4 separate regions of the Homo sapiens genome follow, and regions 1, 3 and 4 are each linked to region 2. The links come from fine-mapping of genetic effects on gene expression. A gene starts in region 2. Each other region holds a variant in brackets. All regions are shown on one strand. Distances are from middle to middle. Region 1 overlaps UNC45B (unc-45 myosin chaperone B). Region 2 holds the start of SLFN5 (schlafen family member 5). Region 3 overlaps UNC45B (unc-45 myosin chaperone B). Region 4 overlaps SLFN5 (schlafen family member 5).

The links. PIP is the estimated chance that this variant, and not a neighbour inherited with it, causes the effect.
Region 1: its variant is fine-mapped to the expression of SLFN5 in whole blood (INTERVAL, PIP 0.95).
Region 3: its variant is fine-mapped to the expression of SLFN5 in spinal cord (GTEx, PIP above 0.99).
Region 4: its variant is fine-mapped to the expression of SLFN5 in whole blood (TOPMed, PIP above 0.99).

The regions. Positions count from the first base shown.
Region 1 is chr17:35,169,588-35,174,736 of GRCh38, forward strand. UNC45B (unc-45 myosin chaperone B) reads left to right here. Exons shown (of 20, transcript NM_001267052.2): 11 at 250-344; 12 at 527-668; 13 at 1,735-1,875; 14 at 4,655-4,782. Among named protein-coding and RNA genes, the nearest start is that of SLC35G3, 22 kb to the right of the region's middle. The variant A/C (reference allele first, on the strand shown) is at 2,036.
Region 2 is chr17:35,240,105-35,245,253 of GRCh38, forward strand. SLFN5 (schlafen family member 5) reads left to right here and starts at 2,968. Exons shown (of 5, transcript NM_144975.4): 1 at 2,968-3,039. LOC105371932 reads right to left here and starts at 4,047. Exons shown (of 4, transcript XM_047437262.1): 1 at 4,007-4,047; 2 at 2,818-3,115; 3 at 2,522-2,721; 4 at 1-1,866. The coding sequence starts at 4,047. The coding sequence ends at 1,419. RefSeq lists enhancers at 2,720-2,779, 3,300-3,409, 3,383-4,011.
Region 3 is chr17:35,161,045-35,166,193 of GRCh38, forward strand. UNC45B (unc-45 myosin chaperone B) reads left to right here. Exons shown (of 20, transcript NM_001267052.2): 9 at 2,951-3,122. Among named protein-coding and RNA genes, the nearest start is that of UNC45B, 16 kb to the left of the region's middle. The variant C/G (reference allele first, on the strand shown) is at 2,502.
Region 4 is chr17:35,263,397-35,268,545 of GRCh38, forward strand. SLFN5 (schlafen family member 5) reads left to right here. Exons shown (of 5, transcript NM_144975.4): 4 at 787-1,507; 5 at 1,676-5,149. The coding sequence ends at 2,492. Among named protein-coding and RNA genes, the nearest start is that of SLFN5, 23 kb to the left of the region's middle. The variant T/C (reference allele first, on the strand shown) is at 2,609.

The DNA.
Region 1 (5,149 bases), 71 kb before region 2:
ATGGTGGGGGAAGGGGGCAGGTCAAGAATTTGCAACTTTATGGGCCTCTACCCTAACCCAGAGCATCAGGGAAAGTATCTCAGCAGAGGTGACACCTGAGCTGAGTTTTACAGTCTGCACAGAGGTGGATCCAAGCAAAGAAAGAGGGGCGAAGTGTTCTGGCCATAGAAACCTGTTTGAGCAAGGCTTCATCCCCAAGCCTTGGTGTCTCTGATCCTGCATGTGTCTGCTGTCTCCTCTCCTCCTCAGGGACTCTGTAAGCTCGGCTCTGCAGGTGGCACAGACTACGGTCTCAGGCAGTTTGCGGAAGGGTCGACAGAAAAACTGGCCAAACAGTGTCGCAAGTAAGGGGGCTGTGTTTCCCAGGCCCTCCATCTCCTCATGCGCCTTCCGGGCAAGAGTCTCTGGGGTGTGCTCTAGTGGAGTGTGAAAGGGACCTCACCCCTGGTTCACCACCCTGAAATCGCTTCACCCTCTTGACCTAGCCCTGGGCCCCTTCCCATGTGTGCTCCCTCCTCACTTCCAGGTGGCTGTGCAATATGTCCATAGACACTCGGACCCGACGCTGGGCAGTGGAGGGCCTGGCCTACCTCACGCTGGACGCTGATGTGAAGGACGACTTTGTCCAGGACGTCCCTGCCCTGCAGGCCATGTTTGAGCTGGCCAAGGCAGGTGTCGGGGAGTCTGGCCCGACCACAAACCTCAGGAAAGGTCTGCTGGGTCCAGACCCACAGGGAATGGATCCCAGTCTTCCTCCTGGCTCTACTCCTTACCCCTGTATAAACATGATTGGTTATTTCCCCCTTTCTGGCCCTCATTTTACCTGATTGTAAAATGGACTCCCGACTCCCAATGCCTTCCAGAGATGGGAAGATGCACAGGAGGGCAGTTTGTTTTCCTGGGGCCCTCAGGAGGTGAGGTCTTGAAGGACCTGAGGCAGCTAAAAAAAAAAAAAAAAAAAAAAAAAGCAGGGCATCGTAGCACGTGCCTGTAATTCCAGCACTTCAGGAGGCTGAGGCGGGCGGATGGCTTGAGCTCTGGGGTTCAGGACCAGCCTAGGCAACATGGTGAAACCCCAACTCTACAAAAAATACAAAAATTAGCTGGGCGTGGTGGCACATACCTGTAATCCCAGCTACTCGGGAGGCTGAGGTGGGAGGATTGCTTGAGCCTTGGGAGATCGAGGCTGCAGTGAGCTAGAATTCCAGCTCTGCACTCCAGCCTGGGTGACAGAGAGAGACCTTGCCTCAAGAAAATAAATAAATAAAAGAGGCTGTGCCTGGCCTTTCTGGGAACCTGCCCTCCCTCCCAGGCCCCCCCAGACTCCTTTCCTCATCTGCTGGGCCAACTCCCTGGCCCTTTTCTACCAGTAAATGGAGGAAGCATGGGAGAGATTTTCACCAGGACCGGAAAATGTCCAGCTCCCACCCCATCTCCAGTTGGATGGGAAAGTGTTAGACTGGGCTTGTGGAAGAGGCGCAAAGCGAGGATCTTTGTGGGACAGCTCCTATTCATACTGTCAGAGCTACTGTGGAGGGTGCAGGAGACACTGCTGCCTGCCTTTATGGGGAGAACCGTTCCTCTCCTGCGCTGCTGTCTTTCCTCAGAATGGGCCCTACCAGCTGCACTCCTCCGACACCAACCTGCCGGCCACGTGAGGGAGCATCCTGGAAGCAGAGGTTTGTCCTAAAGTTTCCTTTCTGCTTTCCCTCTCCCCAACCCTGTGCCTTCCAGACCAGTGACAAGACCATCCTGTACTCGGTGGCCACCACCCTGGTGAACTGCACCAACAGCTACGATGTCAAGGAGGTCATCCCAGAGCTTGTCCAGCTCGCCAAGTTCTCCAAGCAGCATGTGCCCGAGGAACACCCCAAGGTAGGGTCAGGCGCGACCCGGGAGGGGTCTGGTCTGTGCCACTAGGCCTCCAAAGGAGGCGGAACGGCAAAAGGAGTGGTGTCAGGAGTGGCACGGTGTGTGTTTGGGTGGTTGGGGGTAAGATACACATACATTGAATATGTTAATGGTAAACTTTCCC[A/C]CCAGATGGTGCTCATGCTTTTTCTTTGTTTTTATTTTCTATTTTGAAAAAAATCCAACAATTTATAGTCTGAGAAAACAAACAGAGCCATGATGGACACTTTGCAATTTGTGTTGTTGATTTTATGGATAAAAGACAGTTTTATTTCATGTCTCCAACAGATAACAATTTGATTTTCTCAGATTTCTGGATTTTGTGACATGGGTGCTAAGTAGGAATCATGAGAGGAGAGGCATGGTCAGCATTAGCCCAGAAGTCACAGATCCCCTGGAACCCTCTCCAACAATTCCCTGCACATGAAGATATGATTTGTGTGTGATTTGTTTAAGAATATATGCAAGATATTGCCAGCCAATAAAATCATTTAGATTTTTTTAATGATCAAAGTAATATAATCATGCTGCAAAACGAGTTAAAATGTGGGGAAAAGAAAATAACCACTCATGATTACGTCATCTCCACATGACTGCTGTTGGCATTTTGATGTTATGTTACCTACCAGAGGCTTTTTTTCTATGTATCTTTTTTCCTTTCACAGTTATAATTAGAATATATTTATCATTTTGTGCCCAATTTTGGAAAAATATGTTTTTCACATTGCCATCTCATTCTCTGAATCATTTTTATTTTATTTATTTATTTTTTGAGACAGAGTCTTGCTCTGTCACCCAGGCTGGAGTGCAGTGGTGAGATCTCGGCTCAATGCAACCTCTGCCTCCCAGGTTCAAGTGATTCTCCTGCCTCAGTCTCTCAAGTAGCTGGAATTCCAGGCATGCACCACCATGCCCGGCTAATTTTGTGTTTTCAGTAGAAACAGGGTTTCACCATATTGGTCAGGCTGGTCTCAAACTCCTGACCTCAAGTGACCCACCCACCTCGGCCTCCTAAAGCGTTGGGAATCCAGGCATGAGCCACCACACCTGGCCTCTGAATCATTTTTGAAAGCTGCATGATGTTTCATCCAGGCAAGGGTGCAGAGCATGTGCTGTGGCTGTGAAGTTCCAGTGTGGCTTCCAGGGCTTGCCCAGGGTTGTCAGCCCCTTCCCCACCACTCCTCACTCTGAGGATTATCTGTAGGGACTCTTTAACCCTGGGTTGACTTTGGGTTTCCAGCAAACCCAATCCATTGTTATGGCGGCTTCATCCACTGTGTCCTTTCCTGCCTATACCCTCTCTCTACCTCCACTCCCACCTCAGCCTTCTCCAAGAAAAACAATATACGCATCATTTAGTCTTTTGGATTATCCGTCTTTTATTTCATTCCTCTGTGAATGAGAGAATCTTTGGGACTGGTTTTCTACGGTATCAGCTCCTCAGGCTCTGTCTTGGGATTAGGTAAGGCAAGGAAGAAGAGAGGAGAGACAATCACACACGACAGCAAGGCGTGCTGTATACCCCTTGGCAGTTGCTTGGGAAGAGGGAATCTGGAGAAGTGTCTTAGTTTCCTATTGTTTCTAGAACACATTGCCACACGCACTGTGGCCTAAAACGCAATTTTTATACTTTTTTTTTTTTTTTTTTTGAGACTGAGTCTCCCTCTGTCGCCCAGGCGGAGTGCAGTGGTGCAATCTTGGCTCACTGCAACCTCCGCCTCTTGGGCTCAAGCAATTCTCCTGCTTCAGCCTCCTGAGTAGCTGGGATTATAGACACGCTCCACCATGCCCAGCTAATTTTTGTATTTTTAGTAGAGACGGGGTTTCGCCATGTTGCCCAGGCTGGTCTCGAACTCCTGGGCTCAAGTGGTCCACCCACCTCAGCCTCCCAAAGTGCTGGAATTACAGGCGGGAGCCACCACGCCTGGCCCGGTTTTAAAAATCTTATAGTTCTGGAGGTCAAGAGTCCTAAAATGAGTCTCACTCGGCTAAAGTCAAGGTGTTAGCAGGGCTGGTTTCTTTGGGAGGCTCTAAGGGAGAATCATTTTGTTGCCTTTTTCAGCTTCTAGAGGCCACCTACATGCTTTGGCTGGTGACCTTGAACCACTCTGACCTCACTTCCATTCCATTGTTACATCTCCTAGTACTAACTCTGATCTTCCTGCCTCCCTCTTATAAAGATCCTGGTGATTATATTGGGCCCACACAGAAATCTAGGCTTACCCCCTCATCTCAAAATCCTTAACTTAATCGTGTCTGCAAAATCCCTTTTGCCATGTAAGGTCCCACGTTCACAGGTTCCAGAGATTAGGCCATGGATTTTTTTTTTTTTTTTTATACAGAGTCTCGCTGTGTCGCCCAGGCTGGAGTGCAGTGGTGCGATCTCGGCTCACTGCAAGCTCTGCCCCCGGGTTCATGCCATTCTCCTGCCTCAGCCTCCTGAGCAGCTGGGACTACAGGTGCCCGCCACCACGCCTGGCTCATTTTTTGTATTTTCAGTAGAGACAGGGTTTTACCGTGTTAGCCAGGATGGTCTTGATCTCCTAACCTCGTGGTCCGCCCGCCTCAGCCTCCCAAAGTGCTGGGATTACAGGCATGAGCCACTGTGCCTGGCCAGGCCATGGACATCTTTGGAGGCCATTATTCAACCAACCCCAAGAATTCAGAAATGCACCATCTTTGGTTCCAATACCGATTGGCCTGGCACCCAGGACCCTCCCACATTGCCATCTTTTCATCTCCTCAGGACAAGAAGGACTTTATAGACATGCGGGTGAAGCGGCTTCTGAAGGCGGGTGTCATCTCTGCCCTGGCTTGCATGGTGAAAGCAGATAGTGCCATCCTCACTGACCAGACCAAGGAGCTGCTGGCCAGGTGGGGCTGCAGTGGGCCAAGGCTTGGAACTAGGGCTGGGGGCCGAGGGTCCTGGAGTGCAGCACACTGGGCAGGGAGATAGAAATGGTGGGGGCCTAAATGAGGAGATAAACTATTGGGAAAGCCTGGAGAAAGGTCTGAGGGGATCAGCTTTGAAAAGTGACATGGGACCAGGGGTGGTGGCTCATGCCTGTAATCCCAGGGCTTTGGGAGGCCCAGGTGGGAGGATTGCTTGAGCCCAGGAATTCAAGACTAGCTTGGGAAACATATTGAGACCCCATCTGTACAAAAAAATTTTAAATTAGCCTGGCACGGTGGTGTGCACCTGTACTGCCAGCTACTTGGGAGGCTGAGGCAGGAGGATCAC
Region 2 (5,149 bases):
ATTAATGCTGAGAGTAAGTCACATCTGCCCTCACTTCCCTCCCACTCCACACAAACATGCATACCACTGGAAAGGCAACATTTTATCAAAGGCATTTGGCGTTTTTCCTCTCTTATGACCCTCTAGAAGCTTGAGAATGTGGGAGAGAAGGGCTGGAACCAGAAATGGAGAAGTAGTGCTGGAACAATAATGACCTGAAAGCCAGTGGAACTGAGGTCTCCTGCAGGAACTTTTGGGGAGGCCTGGATACTTTGGAGACCAATGGGTATGGATGGAAAGAAGAGCAGAAATGATTCAGCTCATAAAGCAGTGAAAAGGAATGATCTAAGTACATGAACAAATCTTTAAAGCAAAATGTTAAAGTGTGGGAGCAAGTTCTACAGAACACATACAATATGATACTTTTTTTTTTTTTTTTAAAGAGACAGGGTCTCACTCTATTGCCCATGCAGGGGTGCAGTGGCACAATCAGAGCTCATAGCATCCTTCAACTCCTGGGCTCAAGCCATCTTCCCACTTCAGCCTCCTGAGTAGCTGGGACTTCATAGGCAGGCACCACCACACCCAGCTAATTTAAAACAATTTTTTTGGCTGGGCGCGGGGGCTCACACCTGTAATTCCAGCACTTTGGAAAGCCGAGGCAGGCAGATCATGAGGTCAAGAGTTCGTAGACCAGCATGGCCAATATGGTGAAACCTTGTCTCTACTAAAAATACAAAAATCAGCTGGGCGTGGTGGGATGTGCCTGTAGTCCCAGCTACTTGGGAGGCCAAGGCAGGAGAATTGCTTGAACCCCGGAGGCCGACATTGCAGCAAGCCGAGATTGCGCCACTGCACTCCAGCCTGAGTGACACAGCAAGACTCCGTCTCAAACAAACAAACAAACAAACAAACAATTTTTTTTTTTTAGAGATAGGGTCTTGCTATGTTGCCCAGGCTGGTCTCAAACTCTGGGCCTCAAGCCGTCTTCCCTCTCAGCCTTCCAAAGTGCTGGAATTACAGTCGTGAGTAACTGCACCTGGCCAACATGATGCCATTTACATGCAGCTTAAACGCATATACATGTGTTGAATCAGTGTCATGTGTTGATGAGGGACATAAACACATTTACTAAAAGTATAAACAGTTGCATGGGAATTAGTAACTTTAAATTCATAAAATTGTACTGGCTATCAGGTGAGTAGGGGACAAGTGGAATGAGGGAATGAGACCAGCTGGGTACCCAAATATTGCTAATGTTATTGCTTAAGCTGTGTGGTGAATACACAGGTGTTCAATTTACTATTATTTCGCACTTTCCGTGTACTTTAGCTATTTGACAATACATTTAAAAATCGAAAACTTATCCCATAATCCCAGGCTCCAGAGGTGATAGTAGGTGGTGTTTTCCAGACCTTTCCCGCTGCCTTGATTTTCTGTTAACTGGCCACCATCCTTGTCTCCTCGCGCTGCCGGTCGCTGCAGAACCCCTGCGCGGAGGGACTGCCAGTTCCCAGGAAGGTGCAGGACAGCTGGAGCCTCTTCTTCTCTGGGCAGGGATTTAAATGTTCTTGGGTAGCCTCGCCAGAGACCTGTGCGGCCCTACAGTGACCTTCTTTCCAGCCACTTTCCCATGAGCTCAAAGCTTTGGATTCTGTCACTTGCAAAGGGTCAGGCCTGATCCCTTGCGGGTTCTTGAGAAGTGAGTAAGACTTCCAGCGCCCCGGCCCAGACTGCGACGACCCAGACTGCGACGACCCAGTCTGCGCCTGGCGCAGGCTCCATAGACGGCTTTTCTTCAGCTCTGTCCACTGAGACCTCGAGCCCTTGAGCAGAAGATGGGAGAGAGAGGGTCTTGCTGGGCGGGCTCCAGAAGTCCTCCTGGCTCTGGGCGCAGGAGTTGGAAGAGAAGAGATAGAGAAACATCTACTCACCAGAATTGTAAACTGGAAGAAGGGTAGAGGAAAGGTGCCTAGAGAGGGCAGCTGGAATCAGGATTGGGCTGAATATTTTAGGAGTCCCCAAGTGCTACTTCTATCCGCTGGGAGCACGGGTTCGAATCTGCCCCCAGGCAGCCCGCTCCTGGTTCTCTTGTCCCCCTGTGCTGCGGCGGGGCCCACTTCGGCCCTCGGGTTCCCCGCACAGGCCACACAGGGCAGCAGCGCGCGCCGTACCCACGGGCAGTTCGAGAGGGCCGCGCGTGGCGGAGCCAGGCCCTTCGCCAGCGCCCAGTACAAATTTAGTACTAGAATTAAGAGAAACACACTGAAATCTGACAGCCCCGCCTAAGACCCGGGCGTGAGGAAGTCTGCGGTGGGTGATGAATACAAAGAACAGTTTCTCTTTCCTGTCAGTAAAACGCTGTTTCCAGAGCCTGCCAGGTTTCGCCCCAGTGGCCACACCTATGCCTGGCAGGTGCTGGTCCGAGCCCCTAGCGCCAGCAAAAGAAAGGAGGCGGACGCAACATTCTCGAATTACTAGGAGAAGGAGGGAGGCTTTCCCTTCCCCCCAGTGCCCCATGTACCAACGCGTCTCGCCATACCCCTTGCCCCTCTTCCAGCAGCTGACGGAGTAATTCGAGTAGGAATCGAAAGATTTGGAGGCGCCGGGGGAGAAACCTGCGGAGCGCTCTCCGAGCCTGTGGCGTCCCAGGAAGACTCCGAGCGGGGCCAGGGAAGTTCTCTGGAGGACATGGGGTGGATACCCAGGTCTCCTTCCCTGGGTGAAATAAGAACTGAAAATCTAAAAATAAAATAAATAAAATAAAATAGAAAACACAGAGAAGCAACAAAAAAGCGCTTCCCCTCCTCAGTTCTCCCCAGTCCACCCAAGGTTTACCAAGACTGTTGTAGTTGCAAGAGTGGGCTTCCGGCTCCACGTAACGATGCGATTGGGCTGTACCTCTGTCTGTCTCCTGCGCGATGTCCCGCCCCGGGAGGTGTCACGGAACTCAGCTGATATAAGCCCGGGATCCCGCCGGGTCAGGTTCTCTGCTCTGGACTTGGGAGGCTCCGTTGCCTGCTCCCGGAGGGAGACGCGCTGCCGAGGAGAACCCAGCGGGTAATGAATCCCCCGCGCTTCTTTGCCCAGGCCTTCCCCAAACCTCCCCCCGGTCTGCGCGGGTTCTCCTATTGGGCTGTGGTGAAGACAAGGTGCGGCGACTGCAGCTCCCCAGGTCTGGGCGCTGCCGGGAGAGAGTCTTTCCCGCTGGGGAGATTTAGTTTGTTGACTCAGGAGCACCTCCAACGACAGCTAGTGGCAGAGGACCCGGGAGCTGGGAGGTTCGGAACGCGGGGCGAGCTGGGGAGGAGGGAGAGGCGCCGACCCAGCGCAGCCTACATCTTAGCAAACCAAACCTGGCAACATTTCCCCACGGTTCAGGAGCACGAAGGACTTAAGGGAAAACGACGAAATCGGGGCTCCCGAGGATGAAGTTAAATGGGTTGTGGCCTGGGGACAAATAGGGCCAATGTCCAGTCTATTACAAGAGGCTTTGTTCCAGAGGCTTGCCTATAAGCCCCTGGCTTGGAACGTCAGTCTTCAAACTGTAACAACAGGGGCAGGCTACTAGGGTAGCCCACAAAGCCCTGTATCCCCCATACAGTGACTAACTAGAGCCCTAGTTGGTCATATCCGCAGTGGCTGAGACTGCGGTGTGATTCCGTTTCCCTCTTGCATGTGTCCCGGGAGCCCGAGTTGTCGAAGCCCAAATTCAGGCTCAGGAACCTGATGTGCTGTTGATGCCAAACACTGACACACAGATGCTTGGAGACAGAGGAAGATTTATTCCATTTGGCCAAAGCGAGAAGGCAAGAGGTCAAGATCTCTCAAATCCACCCTAACAAAAAGAAGTAGTGGGGAGTTTTTATGAGACCAGGAAGTAAGGGAGGGGGAATTTCAGGGAACCTCGGGGAAAAGTCTTTCTTCGTCTCAGATTACATCTTGAACCACCAGACTTCTGGGCGTCAGCAGCTGGTCACAATGCCCTTAAAGGCATTCATTCCTTCTGCAAAATTTTTTTCTTGACTCTGAAGCTATATCCTCCTGCTTGACAAAGAAACGGTGCATCAGCAGTTTATAATTATATTGCTAGAAAAAGGAATATTGGGCAAAAAGTGGGTAGTTAACATATGCAAATAAGCAAGGGCCTCATCGGAATTTTCATGGTTTCATCACTAAAAATGTTGGGGTGCTGAAATCTTGAGGGGCTCGGTTGCACCAGAAGGGGATCCTTTGTCACTAGTGCAGGCAGGAAGGGATGCTTGAGGGAGGATGGGGGGAACTTTTCAATAGTTCCTCCCCTCCCCTACCAATAGCGGGTGGGAGGGCGTTGGTTTAGAGCCAAGCCTCTAGGAGAAGATGAGAGCAATGGCTAAAGTTTGTCTGGCCTCGCCCTATGAGAAGGGGGCGGAGGCTGTGCCTGCCTTTGTGGGGGAAAAAGAAGCCGATTCCTAATCTGTCTGTCTCATGGGAGGTGAGAGTTCCTGTGGCAGGATAACAGACAAGCAATTCAGTGTGATAACATCCTGTGTCAGAAGTATTCATTTAAATGTCACAAGAGGCCGGGCGCCGTGGCTTATGCCTGTAATCTCAGCACTTTGGGAGGCTGAGGCTGGTGGATCACGTGAGGTGGGCGGATCACTTGAGGTCAGGAGTTCGAGACAGCCTGGCCAACATGGTGAAACCCCATCTGTACAAAAAATGCAAAAATTAGCTGGATGTGATGACACATGCCTGTAATTCCAGCTACTCGGAGCCTGAGGCAGGAGAATTGCTTGAACCACCCCCTCCCCCCACCATAAAAAAAGTCACAAGAATTAAACTCTTTTGTTTAAGAAAATAAGCAGTTTTATTATTTCCATGTAAGAGGAAGAAGAGGAAAATGCTGTGATCCACTCCTGGCCTGATTATGAAAATTCACACGTGTTTATAGCAGCCCCACTTTAACCATGGGATATGTCCCAAGACCCTAAGTTGATGCCTAAAACCAGATGCCTGAAACCATGGGTAGCACCAAACCCTATATCTAATGTGTTTTTTCCCTATACTTTCACTGTTTCACTTAAAGAAAGCACTTAAAGAAAGGCTTTTCTTTGGCATATCTGAATTGCCAGCATCACTACTCTGGAGATTTGGGGCCATTAAATAAAATAAGAGTTACTTGAACATA
Region 3 (5,149 bases), 79 kb before region 2:
CTAAATGCCCAAACCCCACTTCCTCCCTGCCTCATTCTGGTCTTCTCCACATATGTCATGAAACGTGAGCGTTAACAACAGATCTTCTCTCTCAGCACCAGGATCTAGGCTCATCCACGTGTTATGGGATGGGACAGGTAGAGAGCAGTATTTTTTATTCTGTTCTTTTTGTAAAGGGCACCAACATGGACAGCACTTGGGTAAAAATAATGTGGATTTAAAAATTCAGATATTCGAATACAAAGCTGCAATGTTGAGGTGTTATGTGTTGTGCAAACTGGGCTGGGAGGCACGGTAAGGGAGCTGTCAGGATGTCAAACCCGAAGTGAGCTTTTGGGTGAGAGAAGGGGCAAAGATAGACAGGAGGAAGGTCTAGAGTGTTTGAACAGAAGAGAAATGAGATGCTCAAGGCATGGGCAAGAATGGAAGGGGAGACCGGGAGATGAGATTGGAGAGGGGCATTTGAGGGATGCTTTTAGGACCCAGGCTGGGGAGTCTGTGTTGGCTCATCAGGCACTTCCTGTTACTCCCCAGCCCTACTGAGCACTTTTTAAATGCATGCTTGTTGCATAATAAGAAATACACATATTTGGTCTCTGCTGCTGTTTCCTGGCACACAGCTAACCTCTGAAGTGATAAGTATCTTTTTGTATGCTCATGTAATAACTGGTGGCTGGGATCCCCTAGATAACCTCAGAATGTCAGAATGGGGGCTGGTTGCCAGGGGAAACAACCATGCAATTACAGGATTGGAACTTTCGGCCCCCCACCCCTTACCTCCAGGAAGGGGAGAGGGGCTGGAGGTGGGATTCATCACTAATAACTAATGATTTAATCAACCGTGCCTACATAATGAAGCCTCTATTTAAAAAAAATCCCTAGCCAAAGGGGCTTAAAGTGCTCCCAATTTGGTGAACACATGGAGGTGCTGGAGGGATGGCTACCTGGAGAGGGCATGGAAGTGCCACGCCCCTTGCCAATACCTTGCCCTCTGCATCTCTTCCATCTGGCTGTTCCTGAGTTTCTGTTTTTGTTGTTGTTGTTGTTTAAATAATAAATTGGTAATCTAGTAACTAAACTGGTTTTCTGAGTTCTGTGAGCCATTCTAGCAAATTATCAAACCTGAGGGAGAGGGTCATGGGAATCTCTGATTTATAGTTGGCCAGTCAGAAGCACAGGTGGCAACTTGGACTTGAGGCTGGCATCCGAAGGAGGGTAGTCTTGTGGGATTGAGCCCTTAACCTGTGGAGTCTGTGCTAACCCCAAGTGGTTAGTGTCAGCGTTGAATTGTAGGACACCCATCCAGTGTCAGAAGTAAGCTCTGAGAGTAGGAGTAGTTTAGGGAGGAAACAGAAGTTTTCCTTTAAGTGGTAAAATGTACATAGCACAAAATTTACTGCCAGGCGCTTTCTTTTTCTTTTTCTTTCATATGGGAAGATGGGTCTGTTGCCCGGGCTGGTCTCAAACTCCTGGGCTCAAGTGGTCCTCCCACCTCGGCCTAACCAAAGTGCTGGAATTACAGGCATGAGCCACCAAGCCACTTCCAGGCACTTTTTTTTTTTGAGACAGAGTTTTGCCCTTGTAGCCCTGGCTGGAGTGCAATGGCGTGATCTTGGCTCACTGAAACCTGTACCTCCTGAGTTCTCCTGCCTCAGTCTCCCAAGCAGCTGGGATTACAGGTGCCCGCCACCATGCCCAGCTAATTTTTTTGTATTTTTAGTAGAGGCGGGGTTTTGCCATGTTGGCCAGGCTGGTTCCAGGCACTTTTAATTCCCTCCTAACATCTAGAGTTTCATGCCTCCCAGCTTTTACCTGGAATGTTCTTTCTCCCACTTCCCTGTACTACACAAGGTCTGACCAGCTCCAAGCCACCTCTAAAACCTGGCTCCGAAATCCATCTCTCTGTTGCCCCAGAGGCAACATAGTATAACAGCTAACATCACAGGCTTTGAAATCAGACGGGATTGGGAGCGTGTCCTTGCTATGTCACTGGGCAACTTACTTGACTTGTCCTGGGCAACTTACTTGACTTCTCTAAGTCTTGTTTTTCTCCTCTGAAAGATGGAAATAATGATTCCTAACCAGCAGGGTTATTGTTAGGATTAGATGAAGTGAATGTGTATAAAGCTCTTGGCACGTAGTAAGTGCTCAGAATAAATTGCAGATCTTATTTTGTTGAAGTGAATCACCTCATCTTCAGTGTTACCCTTCTATACTTATCACATCTCATTGCAATCTTCATATGTCAGTTTTCCCTATTGTATTGTGAGCTTTTGGAGGTCAGGGTTGTATCTGTTATTTTGGTAGCCAGTACCCCAAAGGTGCTCATTTATTTAACAAAGACATGACTGTTGAATTTGCCCAACGGTAATAGGAAGCCATTGAAGATTTTTCAACAGAAGAGATGAGAAGACATCATCATCATCATCATAAATGTAAATATGGCATTTACTAAATAAATACTTAATAAATACACACTCAATAATAAACATTTATTGAGT[C/G]ATAGTAGTGTGTCTGGATTGATAGTAGAGTTTCCATACATTATCTCATTGAGCCCTCAAACTTTATGAGGTAGGTAGTATTATTCCCATTTTACAAATGAAGAAGCTGAGGCTTGAGGAAGGGAATATGAAATAGTATTTGGAGAAGACTATACATCAGCCCATGGAATGTCAGCACTGGTAGAGTCCTCTGAGATCGACTAGTCCTGATTTTGTACACATGAAAATAGAGGCCCCTAGAGGGAGGTGAATTGGTCAAGCTGGGGGCAGTGTCAGGTGTATAACCTGGGTCCTTTGACCCCATTCTAGGCCCTTTCATTCTGGATGAACCACATGTTTTCTACAGACAGGGCTGGAGAGAAGCTGATGATAACAAGTCACTGAGTGAGGGGTGTGTGTGAGGATGGAGCCCAGCAGGAATCTTAGGCTTGCCACTGTCTACCCTGCAGGTCTGAGGAAGATCCTGAAGGTTGTGGGGCAGGTTCCAGATCTGCCATCCTGCCTGCCCCTGACTGACAACACCCGCATGCTGGCCTCTATCCTCATCAACAAGCTCTATGATGACCTGCGCTGTGACCCGGAGCGCGATCACTTCCGCAAGATCTGTGAGGAATATATCACGTAAGTTTCCTGGAGGCCTCACAGGGTCAGGCTCTGTCTTGGTTATCTATGGCTGTGTAACAAATTATCTCAAAATTTAGCAGCTCAAACAATAGTGTTTTATTATCTCACACCAGAACAGAAATTTGGGAGTGGTTTGGCTGGGTGGCTCTGGCTTATGGTCTTTCATGAAGTTACAGTCATATGCTGGCTGGGGCTGCAGCCATCTGGAGGCTTGACTGGGGCTGGAAAATGCTTCCAAGATGGTGGACTCACACAGCTGGCACACTGGTGCTGGCTGTTGGTGGGAGGCCTTGGTTCCTCTCCCTGCAGACCTCTCTGCAGCCTGCTGAAGCGTCTTCACTGCATGCCGCTGGCATGCCACAGTAAGAGAGCCAAGACAGAGCAAGGCAGCAGGGAGATGTCTTCTCTATCTAGCCTCAGAAGACACATGTCATCACTTCCGCCACATTCTATTCGTTAGAAGCAAGTCAGTAAGTTTGACCTATGTTTAAGGGGAAGAAATTAGGTTTCAGCTTTTGAAGGCAGGGGTGTCAACATATTTTTGGACATATTTTATTTTATTTATTTTTTGAGACAGAGTCTCACTCTGTTCCCCACGCTGGAGTGCAGTGACACAATCATAGCTCACTGCAGCCTCGAACTTTTGGGCTCATGTAATCCTCCTACCTCAGCCTCCCAGGGTAGCTGGGACTACAGGCACTTGCCACCATGCTGGGCTAATTTTTTTTTTTTTCTGTCACCCGGGCTGGAGTGCAGTGGCATGATCATGACTCACTGCAGCCTCAGCCTGCTGGGCTCAAGCGATCCTCCTGCCTCTGCCTCAGCCTCCCAAGTAGCTGAGACTATAAGTGTGCACTACCACGCCTGGCTAATTTTTGTATTTTTTGTTTTGCTATGTTTCCCAGGCTGGTATTGAACTCCCAAGCTCAAGCAATCTTCCTGCCTCTGCCTCCCAAAGTGCCGGGATTACAGGCATCAACTACCTTGCCCAGCCATGGACATATTTTATACCTACCACTGGCTTCTGTGGTTGAAAGGAACACATGTCAGCTTGTCAAGGAGGGAGGCCCGGTTCTTTCAAGACTAAGACTCATGTGGCTTTGCAGAGCTAGACAGGGGTTAGGACCCTCAGCAGCTGCAGTTCCTGAGTCTCCTCACTGGTGCTCCAGCATCAGTGTGACTCCAGTGCATGACCTTTTAATTCTTTATTGCAGTGATTCCCAGACTTGTAAATTATTCAGATTTCTGAGACATCCCCTCTTGACTCGGTAGTTTGGGGTGTGGCTCAGGAAGCTGCATGCTTAAAAGCACTCCAGGTGAGTCTTAGGTGGGTGAAGACGTTGCCTTTACTCTGCTTTTCCTTTCTATATTCCAGGGGTCAACAAACTTTTTCTATGAAGGGCCAGAGAGTAAATATTTTAGTATTTGTGGGACAGATAAGTCTCTGTCAACATATTTTTAAAAATCCTTTAAAATGCAAAAAGCTGGCTGGGCACAGTGGCTCACGCCTGTAATCCCAGCACTTTGGGATGCCGAGGAGCGCGGATCACCTGAGGTCAGGAGTTCAAGACCAGCCTGACCAACATGGTGAAACCCCATCTCTACTAAAAATACCAAAAATTAGCCGAGTATGGTGGCACATGCCTGTAATCTCAGCTACTAGGGAGGCTGAGGCAGAAGAATCGCTTGAACCCAGGAGGTAGAGGTTGTAGTGAGCCAAGATCGCACCACTGCACTCCAGCCTGGGTGACAGAGCAAGTCTCCATCTCAAAAAGAAAAAAGAAAGGCAAAAAGCTGCTGGCCAGGTGTGGTGGCTCATGCCTGTAATCCTAGCATTTTGGGAGGCCGATGTGGGAGAATTGCCTGAGACCAGGAGTTTGAGACCAACCCAGGCAATGTAGAGAGACCCTCATCTCTAAAAAAAAAAAAAAAAAAAAAAAAATTAAAAATGAGTCAAGTGTGGTGGCACACCCCTGTAGTCTCAGCTACTTGGGAAGCTGAGGTAGGAGGATCACTTGAGCCCA
Region 4 (5,149 bases), 23 kb after region 2:
CTGGGATTACAGGCATGAGCCACCACGCCCGGCTTCCTTGCTGTTTCTTGTCCCTGAGTGTTAGTCATGTGCCCTCTTTTGACCATGTCTCTATTCTCCTCTTCAACTCACTAACTCCAAGTCATCCTTTAATAATCAGCTCAGGGCTGGGTGCGGTGACGCACGCCTGTGATCCCAGCACTTTGGGAGGCCCAGGCGGGCAGATCACTTGAGCCCAGGAGTTTGAGACCAGCCTGGCCAACATGGTGAAACCCCAGCTCTACTAAAAATACAAAAATTAGCCAGGCTTGGTGGCACACGCCTTTGGTCCCAGCTACTTGGGAGGCTGAGGCAGGAGAATCACTTGAACCCAGGAGACAGAAGTTGCAGTGAGCCGAGATCGCACCACTGGTGCGACAGAGCAAGACTCCATCTCAAAAAAAAAAAAAAAGAAGAAGAAAGAAAAAGAAAAAAGAAAAAAAAGAATCAGCTCAGGTGTTTCCTTCTTCATAAAGACTTTCATATTTTCTTCTTTCCTAAATTGTACCTTTCCTTGGTATTCACATAATACTTTCTGTCCTTCTCTCTAGTTGTATTGACCACTTTTTACCATAATTATTATTGTCTGTTTATACCAGCTAATTAGCGCCCCATCAAAATAAGAATTGTTTATCTTTTTATTACTAATGTATAACCTATTGTAGATACATAGTAGAGTCCCAGTGTTGATTAATTCTTCTACGTATAATGATGATTACTAGCTTGTCTGAGGCTTTTCTAATTTCTTCCCATCCTTTCCCTGTCTAGTATTTTCAGACAGAGTGGTATATACTCCAGAAAGCCTCTACAAGGAACTCTTCTCACAACATAAAGGACTCAGAGACTTAATAAATACAGAAATGCGCCCTTTCTCTCAAGGAATATTGATTTTTTCTCAAAGCTGGGCTGTGGATTTAGGTCTGCAAGAGAAGCAGGGAGTCATCTGTGATGCTCTTCTAATTTCCCAGAACAACACCCCTATTCTCTACACCATCTTCAGCAAGTGGGATGCGGGGTGCAAGGGCTATTCTATGATAGTTGCCTATTCTTTGAAGCAGAAGCTGGTGAACAAAGGCGGCTACACTGGGAGGTTATGCATCACCCCCTTGGTCTGTGTGCTGAATTCTGATAGAAAAGCACAGAGCGTTTACAGTTCGTATTTACAAATTTACCCTGAATCCTATAACTTCATGACCCCCCAGCACATGGAAGCCCTGTTACAGTCCCTCGTGATAGTCTTGCTTGGGTTCAAATCCTTCTTAAGTGAAGAGCTGGGCTCTGAGGTTTTGAACCTACTGACAAATAAACAGTATGAGTTGCTTTCAAAGAACCTTCGCAAGACCAGAGAGTTGTTTGTTCATGGCTTACCTGGATCAGGGAAGACTATCTTGGCTCTTAGGATCATGGAGAAGATCAGGAATGTGTTTCACTGTGAACCGGCTAACATTCTCTACATCTGTGAAAACCAGCCCCTGAAGAAGTTGGTGAGGTATGCTGCTTGTCTGTGTTCACTTTATTTTCTTGAGTGACTGTGGCTGGTGTGGCTTTCAGTTTACTTGCTAAAATTCATATTGTATTTACCATGACCAGAGGGGTTTAAGAGTAGAATCTGCTTTCTTTGTTTCATTGGGGAAAAACCTGACTCTGTTTCTTACAGTTTCAGCAAGAAAAACATCTGCCAGCCAGTGACCCGGAAAACCTTCATGAAAAACAACTTTGAACACATCCAGCACATTATCATTGATGACGCTCAGAATTTCCGTACTGAAGATGGGGACTGGTATGGGAAAGCAAAGTTCATCACTCAGACAGCAAGGGATGGCCCAGGAGTTCTCTGGATCTTTCTGGACTACTTTCAGACCTATCACTTGAGTTGCAGTGGCCTCCCCCCTCCCTCAGACCAGTATCCAAGAGAAGAGATCAACAGAGTGGTCCGCAATGCAGGTCCAATAGCTAATTACCTACAACAAGTAATGCAGGAAGCCCGACAAAATCCTCCACCTAACCTCCCCCCTGGGTCCCTGGTGATGCTCTATGAACCTAAATGGGCTCAAGGTGTCCCAGGCAACTTAGAGATTATTGAAGACTTGAACTTGGAGGAGATACTGATCTATGTAGCGAATAAATGCCGTTTTCTCTTGCGGAATGGTTATTCTCCGAAGGATATTGCTGTGCTTTTCACCAAAGCAAGTGAAGTGGAAAAATATAAAGACAGGCTTCTAACAGCAATGAGGAAGAGAAAACTGTCTCAGCTCCATGAGGAGTCTGATCTGTTACTACAGATCGGTGATGCGTCGGATGTTCTAACCGATCACATTGTGTTGGACAGTGTCTGTCGATTTTCAGGCCTGGAAAGAAATATCGTGTTTGGAATCAATCCAGGAGTAGCCCCACCGGCTGGGGCCTACAATCTTCTGCTCTGTTTGGCTTCTAGGGCAAAAAGACATCTGTATATTCTGAAGGCTTCTGTGTGACAGGAAACCCAAGCCTAAGAAACAATTAAGTGGTTCTCATCTCTAATTAACTGTGAAACCATTTAATCCAAACATGTAAGCACACACTCACTTATTAAGTCACATACTTTTCTAGG[T/C]GCTGGGGATTGAGAACGAATCGATGTAAGATTCCTCCTTTAGGGCAGAGACAGACCACTGACAAATACACAGATAGACAAGGAATTTCCCATGGTAAAAAGGGATATCAGTAATTAGAGGACCGTGAGACTCAGAGATGTGTGTGTGTGTGTGTGTGTGTGTGTGTGTGTGTGCGCGCGCGCACGTGCACATGTGTGTAGGTAGATGGAGGGGGTGATTATTTTGGGTGGTCAGGGAAGTGCTCAGTGAGGGAAGAACTTGTCATGAGAATCTCTGAGCGTGCCAGGCAGACTCGGATATTTTTATAAATTTTTAACATGGCCACTTGCAGAAGAGCTTGAATGGGACGTGCAGCGAGAATGTGAAGGATGGAGCAGGTAGCTCATCTGGCCTTGTAGGTGCCGGGAACGGGCAAGACATGTTTTGAAATGTAAGATCACAGACTGTTTTTTGCAAGACCACATTATATTACTTTATTATTTTCTGCTTTTTCTTTTAACGACATTAGTGTTTTTGATCACTATATTTTAAAATGCTTTTTGTGAGCCTTTTGGTTATGTGGAATCTGTTCCTTAGCTCTGATTTTTTATTCTTATGGAGCGTCTTAGGTTACTACATGAAGGTAAGACTGCCACAGTCCCCCAGGGAGGCACACTGTGTTTTACTGATTGATTTGAAGATGATAGAGAGCCTAGGGGGATGAGTCTATTGGACTCAAAGGTTACATTTTGTTTTTCCATTTAATTTAATAATCAACAAAACGACAAAGTCAGTTTAATATCTTTCTTCTGCTGAGTCTTCAGGATGTTAGCTAGTCTTTCAAAAGCCATTGCTACAAAAGTGCAAATTTCTCATTTCCTGTGGGTCTCTAGAAACTCTCTCAATATTTAAAGCCAAACAAATCCATCTTTTCTGAGAGACAGAAACTAAAAAATTCAGAGTTAATTCACTATTAAAAACAGCAAGGCCCTGCTATTTCCCAAGAATAAAGAAATTTAAAATTCTCATTGTAAGAAGTATGAACTTGAAGCTAGAATTGGTTTATTTCTGGCAGCTACTTACAATATTAAGAACTTTACTTTTTAAATTTGAGACAATTTCACAGGAAAGCAAGAAATTAGTCTATTGTGAAATGTTTTTACAACTAACTTGGAATATACTGCAAATCACTAGTAAGTAGAGACACATTTAAGATAAAATGATTAATAAAACAATTGGTAATTCTGAATAAGGATCTGAATAAATCCAGATCACAGACTGTTCCTTTACCAATATGTAAAAGAATGTGCAAAATTAGTAAAAATATACCCAAAAATTTACCAGCAACAGAGAAGCAAAGAATGGAGTTCAACCTTACACTATAAACATCTAATAGATATGTATGAAAATTTAAAAACTAGAAAAGGTTGGGCATGGTGGCTCATGCTTGTGATCCCAGGACTTTAGGAGGCCAAGGTGGGAGGATTGTTTGAGCCCAGGAGTTCAAGACCAGCTTGAGCAATATAGTGAGACCCTGTCTCTACAAAAACAAACAAACAAACAAACAAATAAATAAATAAATAAAATTAGCTGGGAATGGTGATGCACACCTGGAGTCCTAGCTACTCAGAAGGCTGAGGCAGGACGATCACTTGACCTCAGAAGTCTGAGGTTACAGTGAGCTATGATCATACCAGTGCACTCCAGTCTGGGTGACAGAACAAGACCCTGTCTCCAAAAATTAAATAAATAAAACAAAAAAAAAGAATTTAAAAGTTTTATATAAAGGCATAGCTACTATCTCATCTGCCCAGTGTAGTCATGAATAGATGTCACATAAAGAAAAGAAAACCAGAATTCTTGTTAATATGGCCAGTTTGAAGGGTGGTGGCGGAGGTATTGAGCAGGCAGCTCAGGGAAATGCCAGGGAGACCCTTGAGCACAGAAACTCCTGATTGTCCCCAGGGACTCTCCGTGGACACAGGAGGGATTTTCCAGGATTTCACATGAATTCAATGAAGGGGGCTGTGTCTTATTCCTGGATGCTTTGCCTCCTTCATGGAATTCAGTGGATTTAATGGAAGTTCCTAGGCAACAATAAAGAGTAGAAACCAGGTTAACAGCGAGGGCCTCATCTCACACCAGATCATATCAGGCTACACAAAAGTAGATGGAAGACACCACCCAGGCCTCCAGCTATACACTGGAGAAGAAGCCAAACTAGTCTACTTCATCTAAGAAAGTTGTCAAAGAGAGCCCTTCTATACTATCTTAAGGTAAAAAGAAAGACTCTACCCAGCTGCCCTGATTAAGCATTAGAAAGATAAGTGTTCTGATCATTAGGCGAAAGACAATGGGGAAAAATGTAGAAAAGAAATATGACATGAGCCAGATGAAGAACCCATCCTGAAAGGATATATAACTCAGGGGACAAAAGACAACTCACCATAAGTTGGGCGCAGTGGATCACGCCTGTAATCTCAGCATTTTGGTAGGCCAAGGCAGGTGGATCACCTGAGGTCAGGAGTTCAAGTCCAGCCTGGCCAACGTGGTGAAATCCT